Homo sapiens: one gene and its partners. The protein of the gene in region 1 interacts with the protein of each later gene in a pairwise test. Each region holds a gene or a part of one and is shown on either strand. Other genes may lie near its edges. The genes, in order: YJU2, SETMAR and JADE1.

Evidence for each region.
Region 2: the proteins of YJU2 (region 1) and SETMAR interact in binary tests that used the Homo sapiens proteins (3 or more experiments, as listed by UniProt).
Region 3: the proteins of YJU2 (region 1) and JADE1 interact in a two-hybrid assay, tested with the Homo sapiens proteins (2 studies listed by BioGRID and IntAct).

The regions. Positions count from the first base shown.
Region 1 is NC_000019.10:4,250,038-4,257,146, reverse strand, and holds part of YJU2 (splicing factor YJU2), read right to left. Parts: intron 6,121-7,109; coding exon 5,976-6,120; intron 2,793-5,975; coding exon 2,658-2,792; intron 1-2,657.
Region 2 is NC_000003.12:4,298,854-4,306,457, forward strand, and holds the start of SETMAR (histone-lysine N-methyltransferase SETMAR), read left to right. Parts: upstream 1-4,515; 5' UTR 4,516-4,517; coding exon 4,518-4,673; exon of another isoform or gene 4,674-4,818; coding exon of another isoform or gene 4,819-5,015; exon of another isoform or gene 5,016-5,626; coding exon of another isoform or gene 5,627-5,749; intron 5,750-7,604. UniProt on the Homo sapiens protein: Protein derived from the fusion of a methylase with the transposase of an Hsmar1 transposon that plays a role in DNA double-strand break repair, stalled replication fork restart and DNA integration.
Region 3 is NC_000004.12:128,868,646-128,875,754, reverse strand, and holds the end of JADE1 (protein Jade-1), read right to left. Parts: intron 4,401-7,109; coding exon 3,493-4,400; 3' UTR 531-3,492; downstream 1-530.

The DNA of each region.
Region 1 (7,109 bases):
GTCCCTGAGAAGTGGCTTTGGAGCCAGGCAGGTTGGGAGTGAATCCTGCCTGGCTGCTTCCCAGTGCTGTGACCTTGTTGTATTTACCCTTTGGAAAAATGGCAATTCTGACAGTTTAAAAGTATGTCCACAAACTCTCTGATGCTCCTCCATTTAAGGGGTGGAGGTGACTCCCCTCCCCTTGAGCAGGGGCTGGACAAGCTACTTGCTCTAATGGAATATGACAGAAATAATGGCACGTAACTTCTGAGACTAGGATGTAAAAGCACAGGCCTTCCTCCTTGCTCTCACTCTTGGGTCACATGCTCTGGGGTACGCAGCTGCCATGTTGTGAGGTTGCTCAAGCAGCTCCCCACACAGCGAGGAACTGAGGCTGACAGCCAACAGCCAGTAGAGGGAGCCAGTTTGCGAGTGGCTCCTCCAGCCCCAGTCCAGCCTTCAGATGATACTGCCCTGGCCAACACCTTGACTGCAACCTCATGGGAGCCCCCAAGCCACAACCATCCAGCTCAGCTGCTTCTGGATGCCTGACTCTCAAAAACTGTGGGATAATAAATGTTTGTTGTTTTCAGTCACTAAGTTTTGGGATAACCTGTTATGTAGCAATAGCTGACTAACACCAGGGTAAGAGCCCCTTGCTGTCAGTGTGGAGGTAACTAAATTCACACACAGACAGCAGTGCGACAGGCCCAGGCACACACCAAACCCTTGCCAAGGCTCATTTCCCTCCCTGTTGCTCTGCATGGCCATGGAAAATGTTGTATCTGGTCTGATGTGGCTTGCTCAGAAAACTCACATTTGGCAGGGGTGGGTGGGTCCAGGAATAGATAAGAATGGATGGGAAATATGGAAGCAGGAGGGGACAGCAGGGAACACAGTCATTTAAAAATCTGTTTTATATATATATGTGTATGTATATATATGTATATGTGTGTGTACATATATATATATATATATATATATATTTTTTTTTTTTTGCGACAGTCTTGCTGTCTTCCAGGCTGGAGTGCAGTGATGTGATCATAGCTAACTGCAGCCTCAACTTCCTGGGCTCAAGTGATCCTCCCGCCTCAGCCTCCCTAGTAGGTGGGACCACAGGTGCACACCAGTACACCTGCCTAATTTTTGTTGTTGTTGTTGAGACAGAGTTTTACTCTTGTTGCCCAGGCTGAAGTGCAATGGCGCGATCTTGGCTCACTGCAACCTCCGCCTCCTGGGTTCAAGCAATTCTCCTGCCTCAGCCTCCTGAGTAGCTTGGATTATAGGCGCGTGCCACCACGCCTGGTTAATTTTTGTATTTTTAGTAGAGACAGGGTTTCGCCGTGTTGGCCAAGCTGGTCTTGAACTCCTGACCTCAGGTGATCCGCCTGCCTCAGCCTCCCAAAGCACTTGGCTGATTTTTTTTTTTTTTTTTTTTTTGACACAGAATCTTGCTCTGTCACCCAGGCTGGAGTGCAGTGGCATGATCTCAGCTCACTGCAGCCTCTGCCTCCTGAGTTCAAGCAATTCTCTGCCTCAGCCTCCCGAGTAGCTGGGATTACAGGTGTCTGCCACCATGCCCGGCTAATTTTTTGTATTTTTAGTAGAGACGGGGTTTCACCCTCTTGGCCAGGCTGGTCTTGAACTCCTGACCTTGTGATCCACCTGCCTTGGCCTCCCAAAGTGCTGCGATTACAGGTGTGAGCCACCACGCCTGGCAAGCACCTGGCTAATTTTTTAATGTTTTATAGAGACAGAGTCTCACTATGTTGCCCAGGCTGGTCTTTGACTCCTAGACTCAAGTGATCCTCCTGTCTCAACCCCTAAAGTAGCTGGGACTACAGGTTCAAGCCACCATGCATGGCTCCTTTTAATATTTCTGAGAAAATACAAAATTGTCCTATTGGAAGTGAACATAATTTCTTTTATTTATTTATTTTTTTTGAGACAGAGTCTTGCTTTGCTGCCCAGGCTGGAGTGCAGTGGTTTGATCTCGGCTCACTGCAACCTCTGCCTCCCGGGTTCATGCAATTCTCCTGCCTCAGCCTCCCAAGTAGCTGAGATTACAGGCATGCGCCACCATGCTTGACTAATTTTTTTTTTTTTTTTTTGGAGACAGAATCTCACTCTGTCACCCAGGCTGGAGTGCAGTGGCGCCATCTCGGCTTCCTGCAACATCTGCCTCCCCGGTTCAAGCGATTCTCCTGCCTCAGCCTCCTGAGTAGCTGTAATTCCAGAAGCGTGCCACCATGCCTGGCTAATTTTTGTATTTTTAGTAGAGACGGGGTTTCACCATGTTGGTCAGGCTGGTCTCAAACTCCTGACCTCGTGACCCACCCACTTCGGCCTCCAAAAGTGCTGGGATTACAGGTGTGAGCCACTGCGCCCAGTGTTAAGTTTTAAAATTTTTAGTAGGAACAGGGTTTCGCCACATTGGCCAGGCTGGTCTAGGACTCCTGACCTCAAGTGATCCTCCCGCCTCAGCCTCCCAAAGTGCTGAGATTACAGGCATGAGCCACTATGCCTGGCCTCCTGGGGACATCTTAAAGTTTTACCAACCACGCCCCCCACCCCATCTTCCTTCCTTGGGGACCTGAGGCAGGAAGGGCACAACCATTGGCACACACACACACCCACACACACAGCGCCCATGAACACCTACATGGCCCCCGACTCACCTTCATGGGGTTGTTCAGCTCCTCGTCCTCCCGCTCCTTCTGCACCCTCTTCTCCTCCTCCTCCAGGAGCTTCTCAGCCTGGAAATTCCGCGTGGCTCCATGCTCCATGGTGTAGTCTGTGTTTTCAGGGTCTGTCTGCAGGGAGGATAGACAGACATCAGCTCCTACATCCCCAGGCACTAGAATCTTCTAAAGTACCACCAGCAGATCAGGGCCCCTTCTCTCTGATTTTTACTGGTTCTACTACCTTCTCTTTTTCTTGTCTTATTGCTTTGACTGGTGAGATTTCTTCCTAGTGCTCCTCCCATCTCCATGGGCAAAAATGCCCAACTCCCTGGCATGGACTTTAAGACTCTTCTCATCTGCCCACTGCCTCCCTGCATCCTCCACTCCCTACCCTTAACATGACTGCAAACAAACTCTCCAATGAGGCAGGTGGATCACTGGAGGTCAGGTATTCAAGACCAGCCTGGCCAACATGGAGAAACCCTGTCTCTACTAAAAATACAAAAAATTAGGCAGGGCAAGGTGGTGCATGCCTGTAATCCCAGCTACTCTGGAGGCTGAGGCATGAGAATCACATGAACCTGGGAGGCTGAGATCACACCACTGTACTCCAGCCTTGGCTACAAAGTGAGACCCTGTCTCAAAAAAAAAAAAAAATCTCCAAGGTTCTGCACATGTTGTGATTTCTGCCCTTTGTATTTATTAACACCTTTTCTTTGATTATAAATCACATGTACAAATATGTATACAGCATGCCCCTGTTTTTGTTTATTGAATAGAGAGGCTAAATACACCCTGGTATCTTAAATTACACACTGGAACAGAAAAGTGACATTAGCAGAAAAACTGAAATCTACCTTTGGTCTAAATGCTAATAGTAACACTATGTTTTTTATTTTTTTGGGGACAGGGTCTCGTGCTGTTGCCCAGGCCGGAGTGCAGCGGCAGGATCATGGCTCACTGCAACCTCAGCCTCCCGGGTTCAAGCAATCCTCTCACCTTAGCCTGCCGAGTAGCTGGGACTACAGGTATGCACCATCACACCTGGCTAATTTTTAAATTTCTTTTTGGTAGAGACAGGGTTTCGCCATGTTGCCCAGGCTGGTCTCTAACTCTTGGACTCAACCGATCCTCCTGCTTTGGCCTCCAAAGTGCCGGGATTACAGGCATGAGCCACTGCACCCAGCCACAGCCTACAATGTTAATGGTAACATTCCACCTTTAGTTTCTTTTTTTAATTAAAATTTGTGTGTGTGTGTGTGTGTGTGTGTGTGTGTGTGTGTGTAGACACGGACAGGGTCTCACTATGTTGCCCAGGCTAGTCTTGAACTTCTGGTCCCCAGCAATCCTCCTGCCTTGCCTTCTCAAAGCGCTGGGAGTAAGCCACCATGCCTGGCCCCACCCTTAGTATCTTACTGTGACAGATGTACCCTGGTTATATAAGATGCTAATATTCGGGGAAGTTGGTGAGGGGGTAGGTGAGAATTATCTGTACTATCTTTGGAACTTTTCTGTAAATCTTCAGGTATTTCAAAAAAAGTTTTTGTTTGTTTTTTTGCAGACAGGGTCTCACTCTGTCACTCAGGCTGGAGTATAGCAGTGAAATCATGGCTCACTGCAGCCTTGGCCTCCCAGACTCAATTGATTCTCCTGCCTCAGCCTCCCAAGTAGCTAGGACTATAGGCGCATGCCATCATGCCCAGCTAATTTTTATATTTTTTTGTACTGACGGGATCTCACTATGTTGCCCAAGCTGGTCTTGAATTCCTGGATTTAAGCGATCCTTCTCCCTTGACCTCTCAAAGTGTTGGGATTACAGGCGTGAGCCACTGCACCCAGCCAAAATATTATTATTATTATTAATTTATTTATTTATTTTTGAGACGGAGTCTCGCTCTGTCGCCCAGGCTGGAGTGCAGTGGCGCGATCTCAGCTCACTGCAAGCTCCGCCTCCTGGGTTCACGCCATTCTCTTGTCTCAGCCTCCCGAGTAGCTGGGACTACAGGCACCCGCCACCACGCCTGGCTAATTTTTTTCTGCTTTTTTTTTAGTAGAGACGGGGTTTCACTGTGTTAGCCAGGATGGTCTCGATCTCCTGACCTCATGATCCGCCTGCCTCAGCCTCCCAAAGTACTGGGATTAGAGGCGTGAGCCACTGCGCCCGGCCTATTTTTGTATTTTTTTTTAGTAGAGTTGGGGTTTCATCATGTTGTCCAGGCTGGTCTCGAACTCCTGACCTCAACTGATCCACTTGCCTTGGCCTCCCAAAGTGCTGATTATAGCTGTGAGCCACTGCGCCCAGCCCAAAATGTTTTTTTAATCAAAGAAAAAAAGCTTATGGCAAAAAAGTATTCAAAGAGTACTTAAGCATAGGAAGAGAAAATTTTAAGTTATCTTCAGTCTTTCCTTAAATTCTCAAGGTAACAAATAAAAGTCAAATTGCAATTTTTATTGGCTGTGTAATATTCCATTGCACGCTACTTTTTTTTTTCTTTTTGAGACAGAGTTTCATTTCGTTGCTCAGGCTGGAGTGCAATGGCGCAATGTTGGCTCACTGCAACCTCTCCCTCTCGGGTTCAAGCGATTCTCCTGCTTTGGTCTCCCAAGTACCTGAGATTACAGGCATGAGCCACCACGCCTGGCTCACTTTTGTATTTTTAGTAGAGACGGGGTTTCACCATGTTGGCCAGGCTGGTCTCAAACTCCTGACCTCAGGGGCTCTCTTTCCTGCCTTGGCCTCCCAACCTGCTGGAATTACAGGCATGAGCCACTGTGCCTGGCTTTTTTTTTTTTTTTTTTTAGTTGGAGTCTTGCTCTGTCACCCAGACTGGAGTATAGCGGTGCAATCTTCGCTCACTGCAACCTCTGCCTCCCAGCTTCAAGTGATTCTCCTGCCTTAGCCTCTCGAGTAACTGGGATTATAGTCCGCCACCATGCCCAGTAATTTTTGTATTTTTAGTAGACATGGCATTTCGCCATGTTGGCTAGGGTGGTCTTGAACTTCTGACCTCAGGTGATCTGCCCGCCTTGGCCGCCCAAAGTGCTGGGAGTACAGGTGTGAGCCATGCCCAGCCTGCATGCTAATTTGTTCTTCTCATCCCTTATTATTATCTATCTAGGTTGCTTCTGTCTTTTTGCCTTTATTTAGAATGCTGCCATGAACATCTCCCCCAAACTGTTGTCTGTTTCTTGGGGATAAACTGAAATGAGATTCCCTGGATGGAGAGGATTGGAGTTAAGGAACCCCAGGGCCCGCCCTGATCTGAGGTGTGCTGGGGGAGAGGGACCGGCCTGGCCGGCCGTCTCACCTACCTTGAAGGTGATCTCTGCCAGGCAGCGCGTGCACTTGATGTAAAAGCGGAAGATGGGCAGGCCCAGGTAGACCTCGTTCTGCACCGTCTCCTTCCGAGCATTGAATTTCTTCCCCTTGTAGATGTATTCTCCGCACGTCTTACACCTGCGGGGCAGCATGTAGGGATGTGAGCTGTCTTGGGACGCTGGCTCCCACTGGCAGGCTGTCCCTGCGGCATCCTGCAAGATCACTGCTTGCTTGCCTCCAGCAACGGGGAGCTCCCTCCTTCAAGAGGCAGGCTGCCCCACCCTGTGTCCAAATTTCCTCTACCTGAGAACTTCGTGTTCTCATTCATATCTTCCTGGGGCTCAGTCCAAGGGTCGCCTGCTTGGGAAGCCCCCTGAGTAGGTGAGGCCTGCCTGTCATGCACTCCCAGAAGCAATCTTTGTGCTTACGGGGCACCCCACCCTCCAGGAGGAAAGATGCCACACAGAAAAATGCTGCCCCACCCCCCTCTTCCCCTCCTACTCCGGGCTCTGCTCCCCAGCCCAGCACGCCCGCCTCCTGTCTGATCCTGCAAACACCCCCAGCTCAGTCCCAGCTCAAGGCCTCTGCTCCTACAGTCTCATGGCCGGCGACACCCTTCATCCTCAGACCTCAGCGCCACCAGTATTTTGCCTGATGTCACCGTACCCCAGCTACCTATAGCCCTCCCTCCTGCGCCACTGCCCCAGGGGCTCTCTCCTGCCTGACTTCGGGGGCCCGTGCACCTGCCTGACTACCACTATTCTCCACTTCCCATTAGACTGTGGGCTCCATGAGGCCAGGGACTTTGTTCCTGGCGCTCGGCACAGACCCTGGCACACAGCAGGTGCCCAATAAATGAGTGTTGAATGAATAAATGAATGAATGAGGGGGAGGAGTAGACAGGCCAACAACACATGGGCATGAACCGAATTTCACTGACCCAGATGTCTCTTTCCTCGTTAGGTGCGTGATTTCAGATATGCTAGAGCATGAAAAGGTATGGGGTTGAGAGTTGGTGAAATACAGTAATTCTGAAGTGCTACAAAAGGCAAGATCTGGGCACCGTGAGGGGATGATGGAGGCCTCCCGGAGGGGTGAGATTGGAGCCATGACCTATGGCAGACAAG
Region 2 (7,604 bases), on another chromosome or scaffold:
GTGAAACAAACCTTATCTCCAGCCAATCTGAAATTACTCTTTCCTATCCACATCTTTCTTTTTATTACTTTGCTTCTCCTGTTCCTTCCACCTGGAATGCCTAAATCCTATCCATCATTCATGATCTCCCCTGCTAAAAGTAATCTTTACCAGTTCTAAAGATCCATAGCACTTTACCTAAACCTTCTTATGTTTCTTAATTATACTATAAGCAGCTAATTGTATCATATACATGACTATCTCTTCTTTTAAGGAAGGATAGGTACACAACTATATCTGATAAAATATTTACTAGGCAGCTACCTTAAAATCTATAGCTTCTGAGAGGCAAGGCTTCTAATTCAGGATTCCCCCACACCCTATTAATGGGATATATTCTCCTTGCATTTGAGCCACCCTCTGGGAGAACAAACAGCTCCCAGGCAGCTCTGTGACCTGCTGTGTGGACTGCAAGCACTATTCCCACAGAAGGGGTACACCTGAGGCCTCTCTGCTGGTAGGCTTTGGCTCTTGTCCTATAATCTCAAGTGAAGCTAATGCCAAGTGTGGCCAGTGACAGTCCTGTGAACCCGAATGTTTAGTTGAACCTGAAATGACCCTGTGGTAGATGTTTCAAGTACCATATTATGGGTATTAATGAATTTATACATATCAAATGTTTAAACAATATCTGGGCCAGATGTCGTCGCTTATGCCTGTAATCTCAGCACTTTGGGAGGTGGAGATGGGTGGATCACTTGAGGTCAGGAGTTTGAGACCAGTATGGTCAATTCGGTGAAACCCCAGCTCTACTAAAAATACAAAAAAGTAGCTGGGTGTGGTGGCACACACCTGTAATCCCAGCTCCTCAAGAGGCTGAGGCAGGAAGACTGCTTGAACCCAAGAGGTGGAGGTTGCAGTGAGCCAGGATGGCGCCACTGCACTCCAGCCTGGGTGACAGAGTGAGACTCCACCTCAAAAAATAAAAAATAAAAAAACAGTATCTGGTACATAATAAGTCAATAAATGTTAGCTATTATTTCCCATGGTCAGAAATTTGCAGAGTAGGAATATAAATTTAGTCATGGCTGATTTCAGATACTGTGCCCCTAACTCTTACATTTTGATTCTTTTCTACATAGAATCAATTCCCTATTGATATAATTTGGATATTTGTCCTCATCCAAGCCTCATGTTGAAATCTAATCCCCAGTGTTGGAGGTGGGGCATAGTAGGAGAAGACTGGATCATGGGGGCGGGTTTCTCATTAAACCCATGGGTGCTAAAGCACCATCCCCTCGGTGCTGTCATCACAACAGTGAGTTAATTCTCACAAGATCCGGTCATTTAAAAGTGTGTGTGGCACCTGCCCCAACCCCCACTCTCTCTCACTGCTCCTGCTTTGACCATGTGAGATGCCTGCTTCCTCTTCACCTTCTACTATGACTCAAAGCTTCCTGAGGCCTGCCCAGGAACCGAACAAATGCCAGCACCATACTACCTGTACAGCCTGCAGAGCCATGAGCCAATTAAACCTCTTTTCTTTATAAATTACCTAGCCTCAAGTATTTCTTTACAGCAACACAAGAAAGTTTTTATATCAGATGTGTACTCAAAAAAGTTTTTATATCAGATGTGTACTGCAGTGCAAAATTATGTGATTTTATACATGCTCATGAATAGCACATTTATAAGGCTGATCTTTAATTTCTGTTCTCAAACCTATTAATGCCAGGTATAACTGTTATTATAATTTTATGAAAAAAGGATGATGAACTATGAGTGCAAAGAGTTTCTCCCTTCTGGGATAACTAAGTAGAACATTCTGTAAAGACTTGGAGAAAAAAAAGCAAGTCACTAAAAAATGTTTTGCCCTTGAAGTGGGTGTGAGTGAGAAAAGTATAAAAGACTAGGGAAAGAAAACAGATCATGATATCCCATTGCTTCACTATCCTTTAGTTCCCACCCCACTTTAAAGACACCAAAACTGGAACTCAGAGTAAGCTTGACCTGGAGCTCTAATCAGTAGAAAACAAACATACAGAGACACACACACACACACACTCTAGCTCTCCTTCTCTTTTGGCCCTACATCAAAAGACTAGCATATAAATGTACCAAAATCATTTAAGTTAAAACAAAATGTTTCTCTATCTATCTATCTCCCCACCCTCCACCAATATATATATATATAATTTTTATGAGTTCAATAAGATGGTTTTGCCTGTGCTTACATTAAATAGTTGCAGGGAACATAAGAAATGGCTTATAAAGTAGGAGAACTAATGTAAAGAGGGTAACCAATGCTAAGGGAAACAGGGTAAAGAAAGATACAGAGAAGGGACTACTTGAGCTGAGCAGACAGACAGTCCTGGGTAAAGGCACTGGAGATACAAGAACAATGTGGACAAAGGCCCAGAGGCCCAAGTAGAATGGCTTTTTGAGGGAATGTCAACAGAACAAGGGGTTCCAACAGAGAACAGCAGCAAAAGAGACCAAGGAAATAGGTAAAGTCTGGGTCCTCAAAGGCTCATAAGACAGAATATAGAAGGTAAACTTTGAGAGAAAATGGAGCAAATAAGAATCTAAGCAGCAAAATATAATAACTGGACAAGGATCTTCAAAGGTCATTGTAGCAGCGGCAGTAAGGGTGATTTGGGGATATGGAGAATGACAGACTTAAAGCAAAGAACTTCCAAAGTCCAAGCAAGAAATGAGAGAGCCTAGGACTAAGTGAGAAGAGGCAAAAATGAGAACATGAAGGCAGAATCAACAAGACTTACCCACCACGTCCTTAGCTATATGAGTCTAGTGAAGTGAAGGAATACAGAGTAACTGGTTTGTTGCTTTAGTGGCTCTGTAGATCACAAATTATTTTCCCAGTTAACTTTAAAGAAGAAAAAGCAAGACTGGCAGAAGAAGTCAATTCAGATTATTTTGAGTTTGAGGAGCCTGTAGGACAGAAAACAGAAATGCTCAATCATTAGCTGAATATGCGTAACTGGATTTGAGGAGAAACGTCTGATCTGGGTTGGAGACTGGTGACCTAATCCTTTATATTTGAAGCCATGGGAGTGGATGTTATTAATGAGAAAGTTCAGGGAAGGGGAGCAAAGAAAAAGGTCAAGGGCAGAACCCTGAATCACACCCACTTTTCAGAAACAGTCAGGCAGGAAAACAACAAGAGGATACTAACAAGGAAAGGTCTGCAAGATGGAAACACATTTAGGCCAATGGGACCTCAGAAGCTGCAAGGTCAGAAGGGTTTGTGAACCCAAAATTATCTGAGACAGGTCTCAATTTAGAAAGTTTATTTTCCCAAGCTTAAGAATGCGCCCCCAACATAGCCTCAGGCAGTCCTGATGACATGTGCCCAAGGTGGTTGGGATACAGCTTACTCTCACACATTTTAGGGAGACATAATACATCAATCAATACATGTAAGATTGGTTGGATCTGGAAAGGCAGACAACGAGAAGCGGGTGAGGGGTGGCTTCCAGGTCATAGGTAGATTTAAAGATTTTCTGATTGGCAACTGGTTATTATCTAAAGACCTAAAATCAATAGAAACGAATGTCTGGGTTGCAATAAGAGGTTGTGGATACCAAATTTGATCGTGGAGATGAAGCCTCCAAGAGGTAAATTTCAGAGAACAGATTGTAAATGTTTCTTATCAGACTTAAGGTGTGTGTTGATGTTGATGCTGGCTGGCTTTTCCTGAATTCCAAAAGGAAGAAGGGCATAATGAGGCATGTTGGACCCCCCTTCCCATCATGGCCTGAACCACTTTCTCAGGTTAACCTTGGCAGAGAGGAGGGGTCCCTTCAGATGGTTTGGAGGATTGGAATTTTATTTTTGGTTTACAGTTTCAAGGAGAAGCAGGACAATCATGTCAGAGAGCTTCAGTGAGGTTGAAAATGCTCCACCGGATTCAGCAGTCTTGAGGCTATCAGAATCCTTTGGCAGGGCAGGGGTTTGGAGGGGTGAGGGTAGAGGGATGGAGAGGAGGGAAAAGGACAGGCAAAGGGGCACGGATACCTCCATCAGGGAGTGAGCATGCCCCCACACAAATTCCTTAAGGCACCCTGTGAGGCTATCGCCTTGGCACAAACCCTATCACATGTCAGTCAACTTCCCGGCAAGCCGCAGACCTTTAGAAACCTTGGTGTGCGTTTCCCCGCTCGGTTTAGAACGCACCCCTGCCTCCACTCCACAAACGTGCAGTGAGCCCTCAAAAACCTGGACAAATGACCTCACCTCGAAAGCCCCCTCTCTGATGCTCCCAGGAAAAACTAAAGCACCTCACTTTGTTTCGTCCGTACCTTACATGGTTTTGTAATTATCTGTGGTGCCTCTGGCTGAAATCAAAACGGGAGCCAGACCCAAAAAGTCAAGGAAGGGAAGCGCCTTCCAGGCCACTCCTGAGAAGAAACGAACTACAATTCCCATGAGGCGGTGGGGCCACGGGACCACAAGTCCCAGCATCCACCGCGCGGCCCAGGACTGTCAGGGTAGTGGGCGTTGCGTGAGGCGGGTAAATGTTCGCGGAAGCGGCAAAGACGACACGGCCTTGTGGGATGGCGGAGTTTAAGGAGAAGCCTGAGGCCCCGACTGAGCAGCTGGATGTCGCGTGCGGCCAGGAAAACTTGCCGGTGGGCGCGTGGCCCCCGGGGGCCGCGCCGGCGCCCTTCCAGGTAGGGGCGGGGCCAGGCGGCGCGGGAGGCGGGCGCGCGGCTCCCCCACGTGGTCTCCTCAAGCCGCCTCGCTGGGACGGCCTCCCAGTCGCGACCTTTTGTCTTCTCTTACAGCGCACCCGTTGGTGCGCGGGAATAGGTGTGCATGCCCCGGCCTGGGCCTTTTTCTGTTGACCCACGGCATCACCTTAGCAAGGGTGTTGTCCTTTTCAGTCCATTCCCTGAAGCGCAGAACCGGAGGCCTTGTGAGAACCTGGCTTTTTGTCCAGTCCTGTCCTCAGAACTCAAGGAGGCATCACGGGGGGAGTCATTTACCTCCCTGGTCTCAGGTGTCTCTCACAGGTAGGATAAGCCGTGGGGCCTATTAATGGATCGCAGCCGGTGTCGTGCATAAAAACAGCCCCTCGAGTCAGCCTTAGCTGTGGTCTCCCTCACGCTGTGGGCTCTTGGGCGAGTGTAAATTAGCTGTGGCTCAGCCTTAGAGTCTTCCAGCGTACAGTGGAACAGTACCTCTCTTCCGGAGTGCTTTGAAAATGGCAAGGAAAATACACTTTCCGGTTTGCTGTAAGAACTCAGTAAATGTTTGCTTCTATTAACTACCTCAAAGCCCTTTCTACTCTCCTTTTTCTTTTTGAGACTGAGTCTCGCTCTGTCGCCCAGGCTGGAGTGCACTGGCGCGATCTCGGCCCACCGCAACCTCCACCTCCCGGGTTCAAGCGATTCTCCTGCCTCAGCCTCCCGAGTAGCTGGGATTACAGGCATGGGCCACCACGCCCGGCTAATTTTTGTATTTTTAGTAGAGACAGGGTTTCTCCATGTTGGTCAGGCTGGTCTCGAACTCCCAACCTCAGGTGATCCGCCCGCCTCGGCCTCCCAAAATGCTGGGATTACAGGCATGAGCCACGCTCCCAGCCTCTACTGACTTTCTTATCCCTCCGACCTTGGCCTGAGCGTTACCCAAGGAATAAGGAATGACCAAAGATTTTGAAGTGGAAAGAGCGCTGGACGTGGAAGTTGGAGAGTATGGTTCGGAGCTTAGACATCTTAGCTACTTCCCAGAGCCTGAGTTTCTTCATCTGCAAAATGAAAATAATAATTTAAAAATGCATAGCCCCTTTAACATCCATTATCAACAATGAACCCTATCTGCCCTTTCTTTTTCCTAGGGGTTTTTGTGAGGATCAGATAAGATAAGAGATTCAATAGCAGCTTTCAAAGATGTCAAGGAAAAGAATCAAACTCTAAAATATTTGAAGAGATTTATTCTGAGCCAAATATGAGTGACCATGGCCTGTGACACAGCCCTCAGGAGATGCTGAGAACATGTGTCCCAGGTGGTTAGGGCACAGCCTGGTTTTATACATGTTTGGGAGAGAGGAGACGTCAATCAAATACATTTAACATGTACATGGGTTTGGTTCAGAAGGCGGGGCAACTCAAAGTGGTGGGGGGGGCTTCCAGACTATAGGTAGATTTTAATTTTTCTGGTTAACAATTTTTCTGGTTAACAATTGGTTGAGTTTGTCTGAAGACCTGGGATCAATAGAAATGTTTAGGTTAAGATAAAGGGTTTTTTTTTGAGACGGAGCTTGACTCCATCACCCAGGCTAGAGTGTGGTGGTGCGATCAGCTCACTGCAACCTCCGCCTCCCAGGTTCAAGCGATTCTTCCACCTCAGCTTCCCGAGTAGCTGGAATTACAGGCGCCTACAACCACGCCCAGCTGATTTTTGTATTTTTAGTAGAGACAGGGTTTTACCATGTTGCCCAGGCTGGTCTCAAACTCCTGACCTCAAGTGATCCACCCACCTGGGCCTCCCAAAGTGCTGGGATTACAGACGTGAGCCACCGCACCCGGCCATGTAGAGACCCAAGTTTTAATTGTGGGGAGGAGACTCCCAGCTGACTTCAGAGGGAGCAGGTTGTAAAATGTTTCTTATCTAACTTAAAAAGGTGCCTCGGTCTTAGTTGATTATCTCCTTGTTGTGGAAAGAAAGAAAAAGAGGGGGAAAGGGGATTCTCTATAGAATGTGGATTTTTCCCACAAGAGACAACCCTCCAGGGCAATTTCAAGATATGGCAAGGAAATATATTTGGGGTTAAAATATTTTGATTTCTTCCCTTATTTGTTATTTGATGTTATGCCAGAGTCAGGTAGAAAGCAGACCATGCTATATAGGGTTAAAATTAAAACTCCTCTGATGAGACTTTATGGTTTGTAAGGCATGACTCCCCAGGTGCCTTGGGTAGGAATTTGGGCAAGATAAGAAAAAATCAGAGTTTAGTCCTCAAAGAGTAGAATAAGATATTAATGTCAGAAATTATTATTGTTCCCCAGACTACCTTTGGCAATTTATAGTTAATAATACAGTTAGCTGGCCCAATATTAAACAGTGGTCCCTGAAAACTTAGGACTAAGCATTGCTGAGTTCCTGGTCAAAAACACTGATTTAAAAAACCACTGTTCTAGTCCATTCTTAATTCAACAAATATTTATTGAGAGCTAAATATATGCAAGGTGGTGGGTTGGGCTGCAAAGAATACAACAAACAGAAAAACGCACTCTACCCTCAAGGTGTTTACAACTGTCACGATTAGCTTCAATATTCCTGCCGTGCGTGTGTGTGTGCGTTTGAGACTATTCTATAAATCTGTTTCCAATCTTGAGTCATATTTTTCTTTGCCATATCCAAGAACAATCTGTAAAACTATGTGCCCGACGTATTTTTTTAATTAACTCACTTTAAGCGTTAAATTATTTAAAAATAAATTATATAAGTATCTCCCTTAGAATCATTGTAATCATTAATGTCCATAAAATCATGAGGTTTTCTATTTCTCAAAGTGTATATTAAAATAAATACGTCTATTTTTAAAAGGGGAGAAAGGAGTGACAAGAGGAAGCTTTGTGATTGATTGTTACATCTACAGT
Region 3 (7,109 bases), on another chromosome or scaffold:
GTAAACATCAGTGTCTTGTTCCTAATAAAAATAATAGCCTACCACTTACTAAATGCCTAATATATGCTCTCTGTAAGGTGCTCAATGGACTTGCTTTAAATAATCACAACTACTTCAATATCTAAGTTACTAAGATGTTATCCTCTTTCTGGGAAAACTGAGGCTTAAAACGGTTAAGTGACTTGGCCAATGTCATGTGCCTGGTAAACTATAGTTTAGCCTTTAAATACAGTTCTCTCTGACCCTGAAGTCTACGTTGTTTCAACGATTCTGTTTTCAGATCCAAAACTGTATTCTGGAAAGAACTCCAGGTGGGGAAGACTAAACTCAAACCGTTATTTTTCAGTCTCGCCATCAGAGTTGAGCCAGAAAGCAGCCCAGTGAATCTGTGCTCTGCACAAATTTGATATGTTCTCTACAGTTCTCATTCCTGATTTAAAGTGGAAGACAGTAAACAACTGATTCAGGACTGCTAAGTCATATATACCTTTAAATATTTAGCAAAAGCAGATTTCAAAAGACACTTAAAATGTATTGCAAAATGTACAGCATTTATTCACATACAGACAAAAAGGCACAATTCTACTAAATAGTTCAACAAAAAAATACAGCTGTCCTCAACTAGTTTTATAAATACTTTCAAAAAGGGGGTAGAAATAAATACAGGATTGGGTCATGTAATATAAAATAGTCATCTCTACATATACTTTAATTTGATTTTTAACTCTTCATGCACCTTTTTTTTTTTTTCAATTTTAGCTGAATGGACACCAAGCTAGGCACATAGTGAAAAATCCTCTGTACAAGGTTACAAATGTAATGACAAGTTTGTCCATTTCAAAATAAGATTTGTACACAACACATAAAACCCTTCATTTAGATCTTGTGTTTATAACCTAACAAATGACATTCCAGGCAACTTTACAAAAGTTTAACTAGCCTACATTTTGACATAATACATTAATCATAATCAAAGATATTTCTTGGTCAGGATGCACAAGGAAAGATAAAGCTTAAAAAAAACAAATGCAAATGGTTCCATACTAATAGAACGCAAGTGGGTGTTTGGGCTGGTTGCTGCTTATGGCCACCTCATAGAGAGTTCCCAGCATGACATGAAACTAACTCACAAAGCTATCATTATACTGTCAGAGAAACCGTGCTCTATCCATTTGCATTTCGAAGCAGGAATAAAAAGTGTGGGCTTTTTATTTTTGTGTGTTTTGTTTTTGTGTGGGTTTTTTTTAATATTTTTTGTTTTGTTTTTGTTTTGTTTTTTTTGGTTCAGCATAACTTGGAACATTTGAAAGCTTTTCAACCTAAATGTGGGGAAAAAACAGGTAAGGCATTATTTTTGCACAAAACTAGCATTCCTAATAGTGCAAATGAATCTGATACCTCTTAAAATGGTGAGAGGTCATACACTTACTAGATTAATTTAGATTTTCTTTCTATGGCTTGACAAATTATCCCTCTATAAATTCTACTCTCACCCAGAGCTGTTGCTGTAATCAAAAGATAACTGTAGATAAAGTCCAACCTTCTCCTGTATCCAGCAAAAGGTTTTTGCTCATATGCAAAAAAAATCTAATTTTTAAATTATCCTACAAGTGAATATACAACTTGGATTCATAAGAACCTTCTATTATCTGCAGCAACAAGCTGATCTGGACAGCAGTCTTTCAAAATGAGCCCCATAACTCAAAAATAGTCAGTCAATCTAAAAACCTGCATCATTCTTCCCCCTCCCCTGAATTAGCTACTAAAATGTCCTTGAAAAGTTAAGACTTGGTTTGAAAATGTCGTACATACAATGGGGATGTATCAGATCTACTATTTGATCATCTGATAAAACTTGCATAGCAAGATGGGATTCAATAAGCCTTTTTTGTTGTTGACAATCATCTGGAAGACTTGAAAGTTAACTGCAGAACTCCTCAAAGCATTATTCATTAAGTATCATAATGTCCCTGCCATATGGAAACAGATGTATAAATGAATCAGGAATCTGAATACTGGTATTAACAAACTAAGGAGAATTTAGGGGAAGTCGGGCTTGTTCCAAAGGCCCATAATTCTGTATCTCATTGCTATTTAAACGTTCCTTCCTTAAGTTTGATTCACAACCACATTGAATTCCAAAGAAAATTAACAGGACCTAAACACTATCCACTGTCTTAATACATACGCACTATGGGGAGTGCAAAAACAAAACATTGTACTCAAATTTAATGCTAAATTTATTATTGCTGATAACTTAATAGTTATTGCCATTTGCAATTAGAAAGTCCAAGTTACAAATTAGAGTTTAGAACTCTGACTACAGAAAACCTATTCAAGGGTACACTTCAGTCTCTTTCCTGTATAACCTTGGTCAATAGTAAGAGCTTATCGCAACTTATTGCCTTTCTATTGTTTTTAAAATATAACCTATTTCGCTTTTTTCTCTTTTTTTCTTTTTTCTTTTTTTTTTCTTTTTTTCTTTTTTTTTTTTTTTTCCTTTTTCTTAAGGAATCCATTCATGTTGGAAGCCCAGATTCCCTAACATATGCACTAGTGGTTGGCTCTGGGAAGTAACAGTCACCAGAGTCTGGAAGTTCTTCGCTTGAACTTGAGTAGCCACTGTACTATTGGAAGCCAGATGGCCAGGTATTGGCAATGGCCAGGGAAATCCCAAGCTGGCTCAAGAGCCAGTGGTTAGGGAAGAAGAAGGTCAAGTGGACTGGTAAAAATTCTACTTCAACTGCCCTTATTCATAGATACAACTTTCCTAACAGTCTCACTCTCCACCAGTCCCATATCCACAACCCACTCACAGGCTTCAAGCAGCAGGACCTTGCCATATTACCCTAAATCTCCATATTGCAGCAGCTCTACCCTGTCCCCTCAGCTTCTTCAATAATGACCTTTTTTAAAATTCTCTTCCCTGACTGCTATATTTACACATAAATTTCTTAGTGTTACTGAAGCTTCAGAGCTGCTGCCTATATGCTATAATGCAACAAAAATAGCCTTGAGGGCCAAATATAAATATGATTTCAAGATCTACCACAGTCCTAGAAAATAAACTTTATGGGCTGTGAATGGTACCATGAGGGTTTCTCAAGAACCATATCTGGTTCCCTATATTCAGGTAACCATGAGTTTGTGCTTTGGGAAGAATGCAGAGGGCTATAAAAATTCATGAGGCTTATTTAAGCCTTGCCTTCTTTAAAACATTTCATTTTTATTTTAGTGTTCAGTTCGGGTTCTAGTCTTAGCAGTGTCTTATGGTTACAATCTACTCTTCTGTTTCCTCAACAAGTTGCAAATAACACAAACTTCTCACAAAAATGATTTAAAAATGACTCTGGAAAAAAATTAATCTGAATTGCAAGTAAATGTGTTTGTGTAGCTCAGGATTAATGGGTTTCTGCTTCTCCCCCACATCAGAGCTCTCCTCTAGCAAACCCAATGACGAGCCCAAAGGGCTTCCGCATCATCTCTGTTGCATCAAGAAGCCAAGATGCTTCTCCTGATAATGTCTGTCCTTCTGCTGATAGTGCTGCTGGTGTGTATACATTTCTTTTCTGATGCCTCACTCTCTGAGTCACTCATTTCCACATCGGGGACATACCCGTCATTCTCATTGTCGGATTTTAATTTGCTTTTTGCCCTTTCCTTGGCTGGAACTCGGCCTAAGCCCAAATATGGGTAGTCTGAGTGCTGGTGGCAGGCCCCATCGTGGGCCTCTCCCTGCTGCTGCCGTTCCCCCTTCTTTGGAATCCGGAATCCTCCCCAGTTTTTCACTGGGCTGGCAGGTGTTGTAGGCACTTTGACTGCAGTCTGATTATAGTTTACTTTGATTAGGGAGCCATTGCACTTGGGCACTATCTCCTTCCTTGTGCCAGGTGCTGACTGCCCCACTCCAGGGGAGGTGGCAGCTCTTGTGTTGTCCAGATGCCTCTGGGACACATCTGTGGACCTGAGAGGCTTGTGACTCTGTTTAAAAGATTTGTCCTTTAAGTCTCCTTTAATGAGATCACAATGAAAACGATTGTCTCTTCTTTTCCCATGGTCTGGCATCACCACACCATTTTTCTGTTGTGCTGATATGAGACGTGCTTCTGCAAAGGTCTTTTCTAAACCCAAAAAGCTCTCTGGGACCACCATCCCCTCCCTTCTACCACACAGGTCTGGCTGCTTCAGCAGGGTTTTGCCTTCACTTCCAGGGCTATTCTGCAAAGGATCTCGCTTATGGGGCTTTTTCAGCGAATGAACCAAGGAAGTACCCATTTGTTTTCTGAAGAATGCAGAATGCCACTTCAAGTCCTCTATCTTGGGAGCATCAGGGCCAACAGAAGGACTGTTAAACAAAAGCATGTTTTCCAGTGAGGAGGAGGAGCAGGAAGAAGGCACACCTATAAACATAAAACCACAAATAAAGAAAAATTACAGCAGAAGCAAATCCAAAAGAATAAAATTCTACACCCTTAGTGTGGCCCAATTGATGTGAACTCCCCACCCAACAACACAACACTTACACCACCAAGTTTGTACAAATTTGGTTTTTATAGTGAAGAGATGACCTGCCTTGAGAATCTCCATTCAATCTGCAGACTCAATATGCCACATTTTCTAAAACAGCTGAAGCTCACATAATTTTTCATAAAACTAGACCTCCTCCAAACAAAATAACTGATCTGATTTTCAGAGCGGACTCCATGCAGAACTCATCAGGTGGCTGATGGCTGCCTCTGCTCCCTCTACCTGGTTACAGAGCAGCACCTGCGCCGCGCTCCTCCACGGTCCAGTCTTCTGCCTCCCGTACGAGACTGAGAGGACCCAAAAAGCAGGGCTCGGGGCTTGTAAGTTTCTCTATGTGTCTGTACCCTCACAGGGCTATTACGAGGACAAGTACATGTAAACATGTGAATGAATAAAGGAAATGTGTGAAATAATTCTTGACACATAGTAAGCGTTCCAAAAATGTTCATTATTATTATGTGCAAAATACATTTGTGGGATTCAACTGAATTGTCATTCAACTTGAAGTAAGTTAAATTGATGTTTTTCGTATTTTTTGATGCAAATCACAGTGACTAAATTCCACAGCATGACCTAGTAAGAGTTCACATTTCACGAAATAATATTAACCCTCATCATTTGATAATGTACTCTGACATTTCCTATTATACTTTACTTGTTTTTAATACTGGTCATGACCCACTGAATTCATCTCACAACCCACTAATGAGTTGTTACCCCTAGCAGGTGAATTCATAACACATTAGTGTTTGTCATAAAGACCATGATTCTACAACAGCCTCAAGATCATCTAGAAAGAGCAGTTCTCATGTTTTCTGTCTCCCATAAGATATGAGCCACCAAGAAAACAAGGTTCAGCCCCCAGGTTATGAGACAGGAGGCCATATGAGAACCTAGTGCTCACCAGACACAGACACTGCAAGCAAATGAAACATAGCTAGCGACTCAGAACACAGAGCTGTCATGACCACAGGAGGTGTTTTACAACCTGCTGGTTTGGAAATGCTGCTTTCTCAAGAATCAATCATTAGAATCAACCTTCACATCACACTGCATATATTTCTTTTACTCAATCACCTGCCACAGGAAAAGAGAATGGTAAGAAGAGGCTAACATTTTCTGAACTCTGATTTCTATCTCCTTGACTGTAATCCATGTCTCTAAAGAGCCTCCAACTCATGACCCTCCCACCCCCCATAAGCACTGTTGCCACTGAGGACACTCTCAGCAAATGACCCTACCCACTCTCAGAATCACAGAGTTTAAACCATGGACCCTAAATGACATATAAATCATGACCATCTGCTCTACTTCAGGCAGGAGACAGCCTTTAGGCATGAATAAGAACACGACTGAAGCCTAGGACTGGAAAAAGAAAAAAAGCACCCTAAAGGGTTTCAACTGCATTACTCAACAGAATCCTACAGGAAGATAAATGTTTTCAACTGATCATACCTATGGTTCTTACATCAGAATGAAAGGAAGATTTGTTTTCCTTTTCTGAAATAGTAGGACTTCTGAATGCAGATCTACATTACAGCTCTGTTACCACAAAATAACTCCCAGACTTATTAAGAATATCATTCGCTCACCCAGTAAAAACCTCAGCCATGAAATGCAAAAACCTGCCTGCAATATCCATGAGAAATAACTCAAATGAAACCAGATGAAAATGCTCTTTACGGCTTATTTTTACAGGGAATCACTCATTACATAATGACCTAAGAGTTGCAGAAAGCCCTCCAATGGCACAACTCCACAGGCACAACTTGTATTAGTGATCCCAGCTCAGCATTTGCTGCTGTAGGCTCGGTGATCTGCACCAGACAGTCTTCCAAGGCAGTTAAACAGATCTCATTTATTTGTATTCAGGTAGGAATCATGAAGAGAGAGCTCACCTTAGGGAATCTGAATCGACCTACTTTTACATATGACACCCTACTTAGAAAATTTATTTTTAAAATCTTAACAATTAAACTGCAAGTTCCAGCTAATGATATACACTTGATTCACCTGGAAAATACTTAATCTTGGGAAGAAAATATCTAGGATATCAACAAGTTATTGCATTCAAACTATGTAACACTTCAAGAACATTATTTAAACCTCCCTAAACCTTTTTTTATTTCTTCAGATGACCGAGCTCCCTCTAGTCGCACATAATTGGTTAGATAAACCAGAATTTGGATTTCAACACAACAGGTTATAACAACTTCTTTGTTCTCTGTGCACCATAATAATCTAGATGGAGTGACAAAAAGCCACAAATGCACAAAAACAAGAGTGAATCAACTATGATTGCACAACGCAAGCACCAAGAATGGTGCAGCTAGAACTTTAAAGGGCAGTCCAAGGCAGGAGAGAGGCTGACTATCTTCCAATGAAGTCCAGTCTAAGACCTACCTGTTCCATGGGTCCCTAATTCTGCCTGATCCACACTCAGCAGCTCTGCTTCTCTGAAATCCTTATACTACCTACTTTTGGGGGCTTATGATCACAGAATATAGGGCTCAAATGCACTTAAGGGGTCTTGATTCTAAAACAAACTTTAAGATCAACGGAATCTCAGAGAGGTTAAACAA